Regions from separate parts of the Homo sapiens genome. Here all the other regions are linked to region 2. The links come from fine-mapping of genetic effects on gene expression. A gene starts in region 2. Each other region holds a variant in brackets. All regions are shown on one strand. Distances are between the middles of the regions. Region 1 overlaps CILP2 (cartilage intermediate layer protein 2). Region 2 holds the start of MAU2 (MAU2 sister chromatid cohesion factor). Region 3 overlaps HAPLN4 (hyaluronan and proteoglycan link protein 4).

Region 1 (4,100 bases), 230 kb after region 2:
GCGGCGCCTGTTCAATCTGGACGTGCCTGAGCGCCGCCGCTGCTTCGTGAAGGTGCGCGCCTACGCCAACGACAAGTTCACCCCCAGCGAGCAGGTGGAGGGCGTGGTGGTCACGCTGGTCAATCTGGAGCCCGCCCCCGGCTTCTCCGCCAACCCCCGTGCCTGGGGCCGCTTTGACAGCGCGGTCACCGGCCCCAATGGCGCCTGCCTCCCCGCCTTCTGCGACGCCGACAGGCCAGACGCCTACACCGCCCTGGTCACCGCCACCCTGGGCGGCGAGGAGCTGGAGCCGGCCCCTTCCTTGCCCCGCCCACTCCCGGCCACCGTGGGCGTCACCCAGCCCTACCTGGACAGGCTGGGGTACCGTCGGACGGACCACGACGATCCCGCCTTCAAGCGTAACGGCTTCCGCATCAACCTCGCCAAGCCCAGGCCAGGTGACCCCGCCGAGGCCAATGGGCCTGTGTACCCGTGGCGCAGCCTGCGGGAATGCCAGGGGGCCCCGGTGACTGCCAGCCACTTCCGCTTCGCCAGGGTGGAGGCGGACAAGTACGAGTACAACGTGGTCCCCTTCCGAGAGGGCACACCTGCCTCCTGGACTGGCGATCTCCTGGCCTGGTGGCCCAACCCGCAGGAGTTCCGGGCCTGCTTCCTCAAGGTGAAGATCCAGGGTCCCCAGGAGTATATGGTCCGCTCCCACAACGCAGGGGGCAGCCACCCACGCACCCGCGGCCAGCTCTACGGACTTCGGGATGCCCGGAGTGTGCGAGACCCCGAGCGTCCGGGCACCTCGGCAGCCTGCGTGGAGTTCAAGTGCAGCGGGATGCTGTTCGACCAGCGGCAGGTGGACAGGACGCTGGTGACCATTATGCCCCAGGGCAGCTGCCGGCGCGTGGCCGTCAACGGACTCCTTCGGGATTACCTGACCCGGCACCCCCCACCGGTGCCCGCGGAGGACCCAGCTGCCTTCTCCATGCTGGCCCCCCTAGACCCTCTGGGCCACAACTATGGCGTCTACACTGTCACTGACCAGAGCCCACGCTTGGCCAAGGAGATCGCCATTGGCCGCTGCTTTGATGGTTCCTCTGACGGCTTCTCCAGAGAGATGAAGGCTGATGCCGGCACAGCCGTCACCTTCCAGTGCCGGGAGCCACCGGCCGGACGACCCAGCCTCTTCCAGAGGCTGCTGGAGTCCCCGGCGACAGCACTTGGTGACATCCGCAGGGAGATGAGCGAGGCGGCGCAGGCACAGGCCCGGGCCTCAGGTCCCCTCCGCACCCGCCGGGGTAGGGTCCGGCAGTGACCTGGGCAGGGGCCTCGCTTTCCCACCTCCCTCCAGACTCCTTTGACCCCAGGAAGTTTTGCCCCTCCTTCTTCTCCAGACAGCCCCCTCCCCAGGTGTCTGGGTCCCCTTTCCCGCCCCTTTCCAGAACTCAGAGTCAGACAAGAACCCAGAGCATCCGATGGTAGAAACACCAGGAAGACAATTGTTGCTGTGTGGTATGGAATGGAGTTTGCGGTGACTCTGGGGCCAGCACCCAGGGGACGACGTTCAACCCTAGCCTGAAGGGACCCGCTCCCAGCTCAGAAGCCGTCTCTGACTTCTCGTGCGTATTTTGACCCTGATTTCAATCTTCTACCCTTGGGAGTTCTGGCGTTTGGCACAAAGTCCCCTCTGCCTGTTTGGAGCTCAGTGCTAGACCAGGTCCCCTGCCCCGAGCTTTGTTTTTGGGGTTATTTATTGAAACAAAGTGTGGGGAGCTGGTTGTGGGTGTGAGTGGGGGTGTGGGGTCCAGGCTGGGCCCAGTGAAAAGGAGGAAGGGGTTCCCATGCGGGGGAGGCTCTGGGGCTGAGGGGAACAATTCTCACGTGTTTGGTGCTTAGAGACCTGCCCGGGGCGTTGGGCAGGCCCTCCGGGGGCTGAATTAAAAATGCTTTATTTCCAACTCATGGTGTCAGGCTCTAGGGAGGAAGGATGGAGGCTGGGGCTGCCCGGCCCAGATACACCTTTCAGGCAGAAACACGCGGAGGCACACGCGGGTGCCGGGGGCAAGAAGCACGGGCGGC[T/C]GTGACCGCTGAACACAGTGGCAGCCTGCTGCTCTGGCCTGGACTCCTTGGCTGTGCCTGGCCGTATGCCCCGGGGCTACAGCAGGCAGGGAGGGGCCCTGGCAGGGGAGCCTCTGGGGCAGGCAACAGCAAGCCAGGCCACCCTGGACCTCCTCAGTCGAGTCCACAGCAGCCCCACCCTGGGCCCCACCCACCTGAACCCCGGCCACACCTCGGTCATGTGGCGACGGGGCTGCCCGAGGCCAGGGCTTTCTGACCTTGCCAGGACCCTGGGTCTGGAGGCGGCAGAATCACGGCTGGCTGGCAGTCTGTGTGCACGTGTGTCCTCCTGGCGCTCCACAGGGCCGGCGCTGTCCTGACCACACCCCCACTGTCCAGACAGAAAAACTGAAGTCCTGGGGTCTGGCATGAATCCCAGCAGGTTTGAGCCCCCTATAGCTCTAGGTGTGTGATTCCCCAGGGTCTGGGGATGAAGGCATCAATGTGGCAAGACTGGAGTGGCCTCCAGGGCACCTGGGATGGGAGACTTGTCCCTGGCTGACACCCCCTAGGGAGTGGGGGTATGGAGCGTCCCTTAGCTTAGGGGGCAACCACCCACTTCCTCTTCAATCTCCCACCCATTCACTGGCTCCCCTCTCCAGACCCCCGATCTCATCATTCACCCATCCAGCATTTAGAGGTGTGAGCTCTGCACTAGCAACTTCAGGGGACCTGAGAGAGCCTATCTCTCTAGGGGGAGACAGGCTCACACGTGCATACCCCAATATGCCCTGGGCCAGTGCTCCACCCAGAGGGTCCCTGGCTCTTGTCCACTGGCCACATCCCCCCTTCGGCTGAGGTCTTGGCAAATCCGAACCTCCGCAGCTCTCACCCTTTCAGTCAGGGAAACACTTCCTTTGCCCTAGGGTGGACTTGGGGGCCTGGAGGCATGGGAGAAGCCCAAGATGCGAGGCGTCACCCCTGGTCTCTGAAGGTGGGCCCTAAGGGCTCTGCTGGAGTTTGGGTTTGGGCAGCCCCAGACATTGGCACCCCAGCCTCACCCTCGATAGGCTGTGACAGGCAAGAGAGGCGAGAGGTCCCTGAGGGAGCTGGCAGGGCTTGGGAGAACACACATTTATCCAGAACTTACTGTCTCTATACCCCCAGCTGATAGGCTCAGAGGCACAGGCCCCTCCCAAGGCAACCTAGGTTCCCGGCCTGCCTGCCACAGAACCCTGCTCAGGGCTGCCTGGTGGGGGTCCTGGGGAGGGGTGGGAATGGGGGCGCTCCCACTTGAAGCGGGCAAAGCTGGCTGCAGCTTTCCAGGCGGAGGGTGATGAGGTGTCAGGCTCCACGGCCAAATACCTTTCATTGAGAAAGTGTTGGGGCCTCCGACGCTGCCAGGCTAGGGCGGCCAGCCAGGCATGGAGCGGGCAGCTGGCCCAGCCCTGTCCCCTTCCCTAGGGTGGGGCAGGGGTGGACGGGCATCCTCCAGAAGCCCCCTCCCCAGTCACCACGCCTGGGCCAGGAAGGGCATCTCAGGAGGAGGACATGGCTGAAGCAAAAGCTGGGCAGGGCACGGGGCTAGAGTCCAGCTCCTCCCCATCCCTGCTGATAACTCTGCAAGAGGGCAGCGTTTGGCCACAATTTCCAGATGAGGAAACTGAGGCTCCAAGAGAAGGACGCCATCAACCTGAGTCAACAGCCTTGTGCCTCTTGACACTGCCTGTCTCCCCCAACTGCAGCCCTCAAGCCAGGAATCCCACCCCCTCCCTCCTGGAACCTGGGCTACCGTCCGCCTCCTGGTAAATCCATTGTCTACCCCCCAACCAAATTGGGGCTGCCAGACCACACCCCCTCAGTCTGGGAGGAGTGAGGGGCAGGGGACCCCCTCGAAGAGACCCCCAGCTGCAGCCACCCTGGGTCAGCTCAGGGCACAAACAGGCCCTTGGTCCCGCCCACGGCATTTTAGACTTTTATAATTTTAGAACCAGGGGTTCTTAAAATTCCTAGCACCATGATGGGGAAAAAATCTTGGAACAGTAAAATGTTTA
Region 2 (4,100 bases):
AGGGTGATAGTATGGAGACAGGGAAGACACCTCAGAGGTTCCCCATGGGACTCAGAATAAAATCCAAATTTTAAAAGTCTGAGCCGGGCATGGTGACTCACACCTGTAATCCCAGCACCTGGGAGGCTGAAGCAGGCAGATCACTTGAGGTCAGGAGATCGAGACCAGCCTGGCCAACATGGTGATACCCCGTCTCTACTAAAAATACACAAAAACACTGGCCAGGTGCGGTGGCCGGCGCCTGTAATCCCAGCTACTCAGGAGGCTGAGGCAGAAGAATGGCTTGAACCCGGGAGGTAGAGGTTGCAGTCAGCCGACATCGTGCCACTGCACTCCAGCCTGGGCGACAGAGCGAAACTCCGCTTCAACAAAAAGAAAAAAAGAATTCTAAAAGGCCATTTTCAAGGCCCCGCCAGATGGTTCCCCTCCCTTCTGCTTCATCCTTGACATTCTTCAAAAGGACAAGCCCATCCTACCAGGGCCTCTGCATTTACTGGCCCCCCTCTGTGTGGAAGGCTCCACCCTCCAGGGATTCCCATAGCTGGCATTCATTGTCTTAACTCAAATGTCCTCTGCTTGAAAAGGCCTTTCCCTGGGCCAGGTGTGGTGGCTCACACCTTTACGTAACCCCAGCACTTTAAGAGGCTGAGATGGGAGGATCGCTTGAGCCTAGGAATTCCAGACCTGCATGGGAAACGTGGCAACACAAAAAACACACAAATTCGCTGTGTGGTGGCGCGCATCTGTGGTCTCAGCTACTAGGGAGGCTGAGGTGGGAGGATCACCTGAACCCAGGGAGCCACAGTGAGCCACTGCACTACAGCCTGGGCGACAAAGTGAGACCCTGTCTCAAAAAAAAAAAAAAAAAAAAAAAGAAAGAAAGAAAGAAAAGGTCTTTCCTGACTACCCAATATCAGAAGCCTCCACTCTGATCATATCATACGTAACCTCACATCATACGTAAGTTTTTGTAAATATTTTCTCATTAATGCACTGACACCCCAGTAGAAAGCAACCTCCAGGAAGGCAGGGCCCTGTTTCGGTCACCGCTGCATGCGTAGCGCCCAGCACACTGCTTGGCACACAGTGAGCACGCCCTAAGTATCTGCTGATGGGTAAATGCATTCTATTCTGGGGAAGCAGAAAGGCCAAGGCTTGCAGCAAAGTGAGGGTCAAAAGACGCGGGAAAGTGTGTCAAGGGAGCCTCAAAGCACTTCGGAAAAGCAGCTTTTCCAGAAAGCGGGACACAGGCCAGAGGCCAGCTGCGACGAAAAGAGGGGTGCAGGGACAGCCCAAGGTTGTCGCCGTATTGGGGAACGGAGGTTGGAGCAGCCCTGAAGGCGGTTGTTTCGGAAACGGGACGCAGGGCCGAGCCGGGTGGCGGCCTCTACGGAGATCCGTGCGTCCTCAGCAAACCAAGCGGGGGCGGCCAGCAACCTGGGTCTGGGGTCTCGAGAAACCAAGAGGTGCAGAAGCCGACGCTGTGGGCTGCCCCGGGGCTGAAGCGAGGGATCCACGGGTCGCAGCAGGACGGACCCGAGGAGTCAGGGGAGACACCTAGCCCCAGGGACCCAGGCGGCCGCCTGAGAGGAGGCGGGGGCTGTTACCTGCAACATCCCGGTTGTCCATCTTGAGACTCATCCAATCCCACAATGCTCCGGCGCCCCTTAAGGGGCCCTGTTATAGTGTGCATCGCCTGATGGGAGATGTAGTCCGCCTCGGTCAGACTCGCCCTATTACTGCGTGAACGACTGGGTTTTTTTTTTTTTAACCTCCAGAAACGGAAGCCTCAGCCTATCAGCGATGCCTAAGTCCCAGTCACGATAACCAAACGGCGTCGCCCTTTTACACCTTCCCGGAGCGGCAGTCATCCCAAATACAAACTACATGTTCCAGGATGCTTTGGGCGGCAGATCTCGCGGAAGCCGCGAGGAGAGCCCGGCCCCGTCTCGCGCGCCTGCTTCCGCCTCCCTGTGGCGGCGGCTTGTTGTTGTGGAGGCCAAAATGGCGGCTCAGGCGGCGGCAGCGGCCCAGGCGGCGGCGGCCCAGGCTGCGCAGGCCGAGGCGGCCGACTCGTGGTACCTGGCGCTTCTGGGCTTCGCTGAGCACTTCCGCACTTCCAGCCCGCCCAAAATCCGCCTGTGCGTGCACTGCCTGCAGGCCGTGTTCCCCTTCAAGCCGCCGCAGCGCATCGAGGCCCGTACACACCTGCAGCTGGGCTCCGTTCTCTATCACCACACCAAGAACAGCGAGCAGGCGCGCAGCCACCTGGAGAAGGCGGTGAGCGCGGGCCGGGCCGCGAGGGAGGAGTCGCGGGCTCCTTGCAAGATCTGGGCTGACGGGTCGCGACCGCGGCGGGTGGGGGGCCGCTCCTCGGCGACCTGGGGGCGCGACCTCCGTCAAAGCCGCAGGACCCCCACCCGCCTCTGCCGGACCCCAAAGCCACCAGCCTCTCAAGGGACACGAAAGCCTCGCCCCCCACGCCTTATTTCCCGTTTCTGGTGACAGGGCTCCAGGAGCCCCGTCACCGTACTCTGAAAGTTGCCTGTTATTGGGAGCAACAGGATCCGCAAATCGTCTGGTTTTCAGGAGGATCCCACCTGTTGGTGGCGATGGGGACATCACAGGGTCCTGAAGCTATTAGCTCCTCCTGGTTCAGCTTCCGGAGCATCAGCCCCAAACGCTTCCACCTAAAGTGACTTGGGGTAGGGGTTGGCGAAGGCGAGACCCCTGGCATTCTCCCGGGAATCTGAAGTCTGGTCTCTCAGGAACCTGGAAGGGCATGATTCTCCTTGGACACAGAAGTTTGGTAATCGTGGTTTTTGGAGGGTCTTGTGCCCCCATCAATAATGCCTGGTGTCGTACGAGGGAAGCTGAGACCCGGAGTCTGGAGTTGGTCATTTGAGGCCTATGAGGAGGAGAAACAGGGGTTCTGGATTCCAGGCCCCGCTGTTCAGTTTCAGTATTAGGGGAACTAAAAGCAGCTCCTGCTTTTTCTCCATCCACTGGTGACTTCTACCATCCATCAGTCCATCCTCTTCCGTCAGAGTGAGTCCCTCCCCTGACCCAACTTGATTTGTGTCATCTTGGTGCCTCAAAGAATGCGGGAGAGTGGCTGTCATTCTGCCCTTTAGTAAACTTTCTTTTTTTTTTTTTTTTTGAGACGGAGTCTTGCTCTGTCACCCAGGCTGGAGTGCAGTGGTGCCATCTTGGCTCACTGCAAGTTCCGCCTCCCGGGTTCAGGCCATTCTCCTGCCTCAGCCTCCTGAGTAGCTGAGACTACAGGCGCCCGCCACCACGCCTGCCTAATTTTTTGTATTTTTTAGTAGAGATGGGGTTTCACCGTGTTAGCCAGGGTGGTCTCCATCTCCTGACCTCATGATCTGCCCACCTCGGCCTCCCACAGTGCTGGGATTACAGGCTTGAGCCACCGCGCCCGGCCCCTTTAATAAACTTTCTAGGGCCAGGCTCAGTGGCTTATGTCTGTAATCCCAGTATTTTGGGAGGCGGAGGCAGACAGATTACTAGACCCCAGGAGTTTGAGACCAGCCTGGGCAACACAGTGAGATCCCGTCTCTACAAAAAATACAAAAACTAGCTGGGCGTACTGACGCGGGCCTGTAGTCCCATCTACTCCAGAGGCTGAGGTGGGAGGATCAGCTAAGCCCCGGGAGGTCGTGGCTGCAGTGAGCAGTGATCACGCCACTTCACTCCAGCCTTGGTGACAGTGAAACCCTGTCTCAGAAAAAAAAGATAATAAGGAAAAAATAATAAAATTTCAGGCTGTGGAGTCGTTTTTTTCTCACAGCAGCGCTGTGATCCTGTCAGACCCCTGCCTCCCTTTTACCTTTTACCCAGCTCTGTCCTGCTTGAATAGAAAATTATTGAAAAGAATCAACTCAGATTTTAAAAACTCATTAATCTGAGGTAAATCCAAGCCCACCCTCAGCTAGTAACAACTTGCCTTGAGGAATAGATCAAATCTTTGTTTCACAGACTGAAAAGTTGGAAGGAGACTTTATTTTATTTTATTTTATTTATTTGTTTATTTTGAGACGGAGTTTCGCTCTTGTTGCCGGGGCTGTAGCGCAATGGCAGGA
Region 3 (4,100 bases), 62 kb before region 2:
ACTGCTCTGCATAACTAGTGACATGGATCTTACCGGTCCCCAGGCCTGGGAAGATGGTCTGTTTGGTGACAGTTGGGAAAGGGACGTCAGAGGACAGGGTGGGTTTGCTCTCCCTTCAAAGAAATATCTGAGGGGTGGGACGTGGCCCCCAGTAAGTGAGCCAGCTGGCTGTGTGTCAGTCTGAGGTGGCAGATGGGGGTGCTCGCCCATGAAACTAGAGGGGTGTGCCCTGTTACCCAGAAACTGCAGGGGACTCTCAGGGAGAGGGGGAGAATGGGAGTCTCCAGGACTCAGGTCACCATAAGGGAAAATAAGCGCCTCGGCCCACAACCTCCATGTGACCACGGGGAGTGACCCTGAAGTTCCTGTAGTCTCTCCAGGTGAGGAGGAGGGGGAGGAGGAGGCGCCCAGTGTCCCACGTGACCGCAAGGGACTAGTGTTCAGTCTCCAGTGAGATGCAGAAGGTGTACGGCCGGTCTCTAGTCAATCCCGGGGGTCCAGCCACCAGGCGACCACGGGGGCAGTTGGTCTGTTTCCAAGTGGTCTCAGGAGGCGTGGCCAGTCTTCAGGAGCCTGCGGGTTCTGCTGGCCTCCTGAGGTCCTCAGGGGGCGTGACCCTCATGGAGAAAGTTGGGGAGTTGGGGGAATCCTCTATCCAGAAGAGGTGAGGGCTGGCCAGGCTCCAGGGAACTCCAAAGTACTGTTCTGCCAGGACTAGCCAGTCTTCAGGGACCCCAGGGGCACAGTTAGTTTGTAAGGGACCACAGGGAATGTGGCCAGTGTCCAGGGCTTCAAGGGCGTGGCCAGGCTCCAGGGGACCACAGGGCTCTAGACCAGTGGTCAAGCGCCCTGGCTGTCCGCCTACTCCCAGCCTAGACGTGCAGAGGGGTCCAGGCAGCAGGATCGCGCGCGCCCCCTGCCCAGCCGCCGCCGCCCGCCCAGCCCCAGCCCCAGCCGCCAGGTGCCGGGTCCGGTGCTCCTGGAGCGCGGTAGCAGTAGACGCCGAAGAGCCGTCGGGTGGCGTCCGGGAAGCCGAGGCTGCGCACACCAGGCCTGCGGCCTCCGCAGCGCGCTCGCGGGTTCACGATGGGGTAGCGCGCACTGCCATCGGCCAGCCAACCCGCGGTGCAGCGGTCTAGCAGCTGCAGCTTCCACGCGGCGAACAGCTGCCCCACCTTGGCCACGGCCGCGCCACGCGCAGCACACGCGCGCGCAGCTCCGGAGAAGGGTACAGGTCGCAGCGGCTTCAGGAAGAACACGCGCCCTGCGGGGGTGAGGTGGGGGGTGGGTTATTAGTGCGGCTCCTGGGACCCTGCTTCGGTGGGATTCAGGACTGCCCCCCGCATGCAGCCTAGGACTCTGGCCTCGGCCCCGGGATCCAGGAACAGTTCCTCCTTTGCAGCCTGGGACCCCAGCCTAGGCCCAACCAGCGTTGGTACCAGGCGGTGTGTGCTGCGCCTAGGCACTCTTGGGAGAGGGGTCTCCTGTTTCTGATCGCTAAGAGCTGGGTGGGGAAGAAGGCCCCGGGGTTGGGGTAGTGTTGCAGCAGAGGCCAGTCTTGGGGTGAGGCCTACGCACCCGGCAGGTTGGACGTGAAGCAGAAGGCGTCGTAGCGTTCCTCGGCGTTATGGCGATACCCGTAGTTGCGCAGGCCCCCGTTGGCATCACCGCCGCCCCCTGC[A/G]CTCCCGGTCCCCCCCAGGCCGCCGCAGGGCTCCCGGGGCCGGTTCACGGGGTATTGCACTGAGCCGTCGCGCAACCAGCCCGCGTTGCACCAGTCCAGGCCGTCGCGCCAGGCCGCGTGCAGCTGTTCTGCAGATGCCAGGATGCCGTCCTGCTCGGCGCACGCGCGCTGCGCCTCCGCGAAGGTCAGCTTGTATCGGCCTCCACGGGGGTGGTAGGGAAAGACCACGCCTGGCGGGGGGCGCACGGGATCAGCAGGTACACCCCAGCCCACCCTCATGCACCTGACGTCTGGGGTGCTATGTGACTCTTCAACCGGGACCTTTCAGTCCATTCCTCCTCACTCTGGCCTCAGACCTGACCACGATCCTCCCCAGCTCACACCCCATATAGCTGTCTCCCTTCACTTTAAGCTTGGGATTCACTTGACCCTCCCCCTTAACATACTATTTGTGTCCATCCCCTTCCACCTCTGGAGGACTTTGCTCATGCTCTTTCCACCTTATTCTACCTGTTGAACTCCTATTCATCCTTCAAAATCCAACTCCCAAACCCTCTTCCATTGAGTCCTGTGTGCCTCTGACATTCCGCCAGTACTGGGTCCCTCCCTCTGGTCCAGCCCTGAGCCCACGGAGCCTGCGTTCAGTGCTGACTCTCCTAGACTAGGACCCCCTGGAAGATTGGCCCTAGGTGAAGACCCCTTTGATTCCCCCAGCATTGTCCAAGGGAGTACCCACTGGGTTCCCTTCTACCTTCAGTTCTGATGACTTTGGAACTTGTCCCTCATTGGACTCACAGTCCGTTCAGCTCAAGTATTTTGTGTGTCTGTGTTTGAGGGACGCGGGTTGGGGGTGAGTGGGGTACCCTGGAAAGAGGCAGACAGGGTCCAGGGAGAAGGCCTGGAGCTGACAGACTGGGGATTGAATCCTGTCTCTGCCACCAACTAGCACTGTCCTGGGCAAGGCTCTAACCTCTCTGAGCCTGTTGTCCATCTGCTGGTAATAGCTGTCTCCCTTGGGGTTTTTAGGAAATTAAATTAGAGACTCCTGAGAACTCTTCAACTAAGCACCTGCCACAGAAAATGTCCAGTAAAGGAGAGCTGCTGCTATTATTGTTGTTATTTGTTATTGTTAGGGAGGTCAGCAAGCAAGGGCCCTGAAATCTCACCTAGAATCTTCTAAAGAGAACTGGAAAAGGCCAATCAAATGGGAGGGAATTCTTCAAATAGAAACCCCACCTCCCAGCTCCAGGGTGAGCCAATCAGAGCATCCCATCTTCCAGCTACAGTGATTGGCTCACAGTTGGGCACATGACTCAAGCTGAGCCAGTGAGGGACAACTCTGGGACTCTAGCTGCTGCTCCTAGGAAATCAGTTGCTAAGCAGGGAAGTGAAAGCCTAGGCACTGTGGTCTTGGTTCCAGAAAGAGAAGCCTGTCGGAAGAAAGCCTACCTGGGAAGCAGAGCAGAAGGATGGTTCCTGACACGGTGTGAGTGCCTGGATCTCACTGTGCCTGAATCCTATCCCAGGACTTCTCAGTGTCCTCATTGTGGACATTTTGGACTGGATCACTTTTATTTTATTTTATTTATGTATTTATTTATTTATTTTTGAGATGGAGTCTCGCTCTGTCGCCCAGGCTGGAGTGCAGTGGCACGATCTCCACTCACCGCAACCTCCACCTCCCGGGTTCAAGAGATTTTCCTGCCTCAGCCTCCCAAGTAGCTAGAATTACAGGAATGCACCACCATGCCTGGCTAATTTTTGTATTTTTACTAGAGATGGGGTTTTGGCATGTTGGCCAGGCTGGTCTTGAACTCCTGACCTCAGGTGATCCGCCTGCCTCAACCTCCCAAAGTGCTGGGATTACAGTCGTGAGCCACCATGCCCGGCCTGGATCACTCCTTGTGGGGGACTATCCTGTGCCTGGTAGGATGTATAGCTGCATCCCTGGCCTCTACCCACTAGGGGCTAGTAGCAACTGCCTTCTCCAGATGTGACAACGTAAAATATCTCCAGACATCGCCAATGTCCCTGGGGAGGAAAATCACCCAGAACCAGATATGGGGGCTCTACCCCAACCAACCTTCTAAATGCCTGCAGGCCAACTTGATTTGGTTTATGTCCCTTGCCATCCCCGCCCCCCTCCTTCCTCAGAAGCAAGGTTTATCCTCCCCACCGGCTGATCACCTTCCAGGTCCAGCTTGACCATGCCAGCGTCATCTTCCAGCTCATTGGTGACTTCGCACTCATAGCGCCCGTAGTCTTGCAGCGTGACGTTGCGGAGGACCAGGGAGGCATCCCCAGGCCCGTCGCCCTGCAGCTCAGCCCGCCCACGGTAGCTGCCGAATGCCCGGTGCTGGGGGCCTAGTGCCACGAAGACGTCGGTGAAGGCCAGCGGGTCCACCACCTTTGTCCACTT

Evidence for each region.
Region 1: its variant is fine-mapped to the expression of MAU2 in whole blood (INTERVAL, PIP 0.97).
Region 3: its variant is fine-mapped to the expression of MAU2 in whole blood (INTERVAL, PIP 0.97).

Annotation. Positions count from the first base shown.
Region 1 is chr19:19,544,714-19,548,813 of GRCh38, forward strand. CILP2 (cartilage intermediate layer protein 2) reads left to right here. Exons shown (of 8, transcript NM_153221.2): 8 at 1-1,946. The coding sequence ends at 1,303. Among named protein-coding and RNA genes, the nearest start is that of CILP2, 8.5 kb to the left of the region's middle. RefSeq lists an enhancer at 669-1,352. The variant T/C (reference allele first, on the strand shown) is at 2,068.
Region 2 is chr19:19,318,856-19,322,955 of GRCh38, forward strand. It overlaps MAU2 (MAU2 sister chromatid cohesion factor), which reads left to right and starts at 1,974. Exons shown (of 19, transcript NM_015329.4): 1 at 1,974-2,280. The coding sequence starts at 2,005. It overlaps SUGP1 (SURP and G-patch domain containing 1), which reads right to left and starts at 1,654. Exons shown (of 14, transcript NM_172231.4): 1 at 1,608-1,654. The coding sequence starts at 1,641. RefSeq lists enhancers at 1,522-1,571, 1,592-2,081, 1,790-2,761 and a silencer at 2,133-2,354.
Region 3 is chr19:19,256,945-19,261,044 of GRCh38, forward strand. HAPLN4 (hyaluronan and proteoglycan link protein 4) reads right to left here. Exons shown (of 5, transcript NM_023002.3): 3 at 3,869-4,100; 4 at 1,579-1,911; 5 at 1-1,264. The coding sequence ends at 873. Among named protein-coding and RNA genes, the nearest start is that of HAPLN4, 3.8 kb to the right of the region's middle. The variant A/G (reference allele first, on the strand shown) is at 1,682.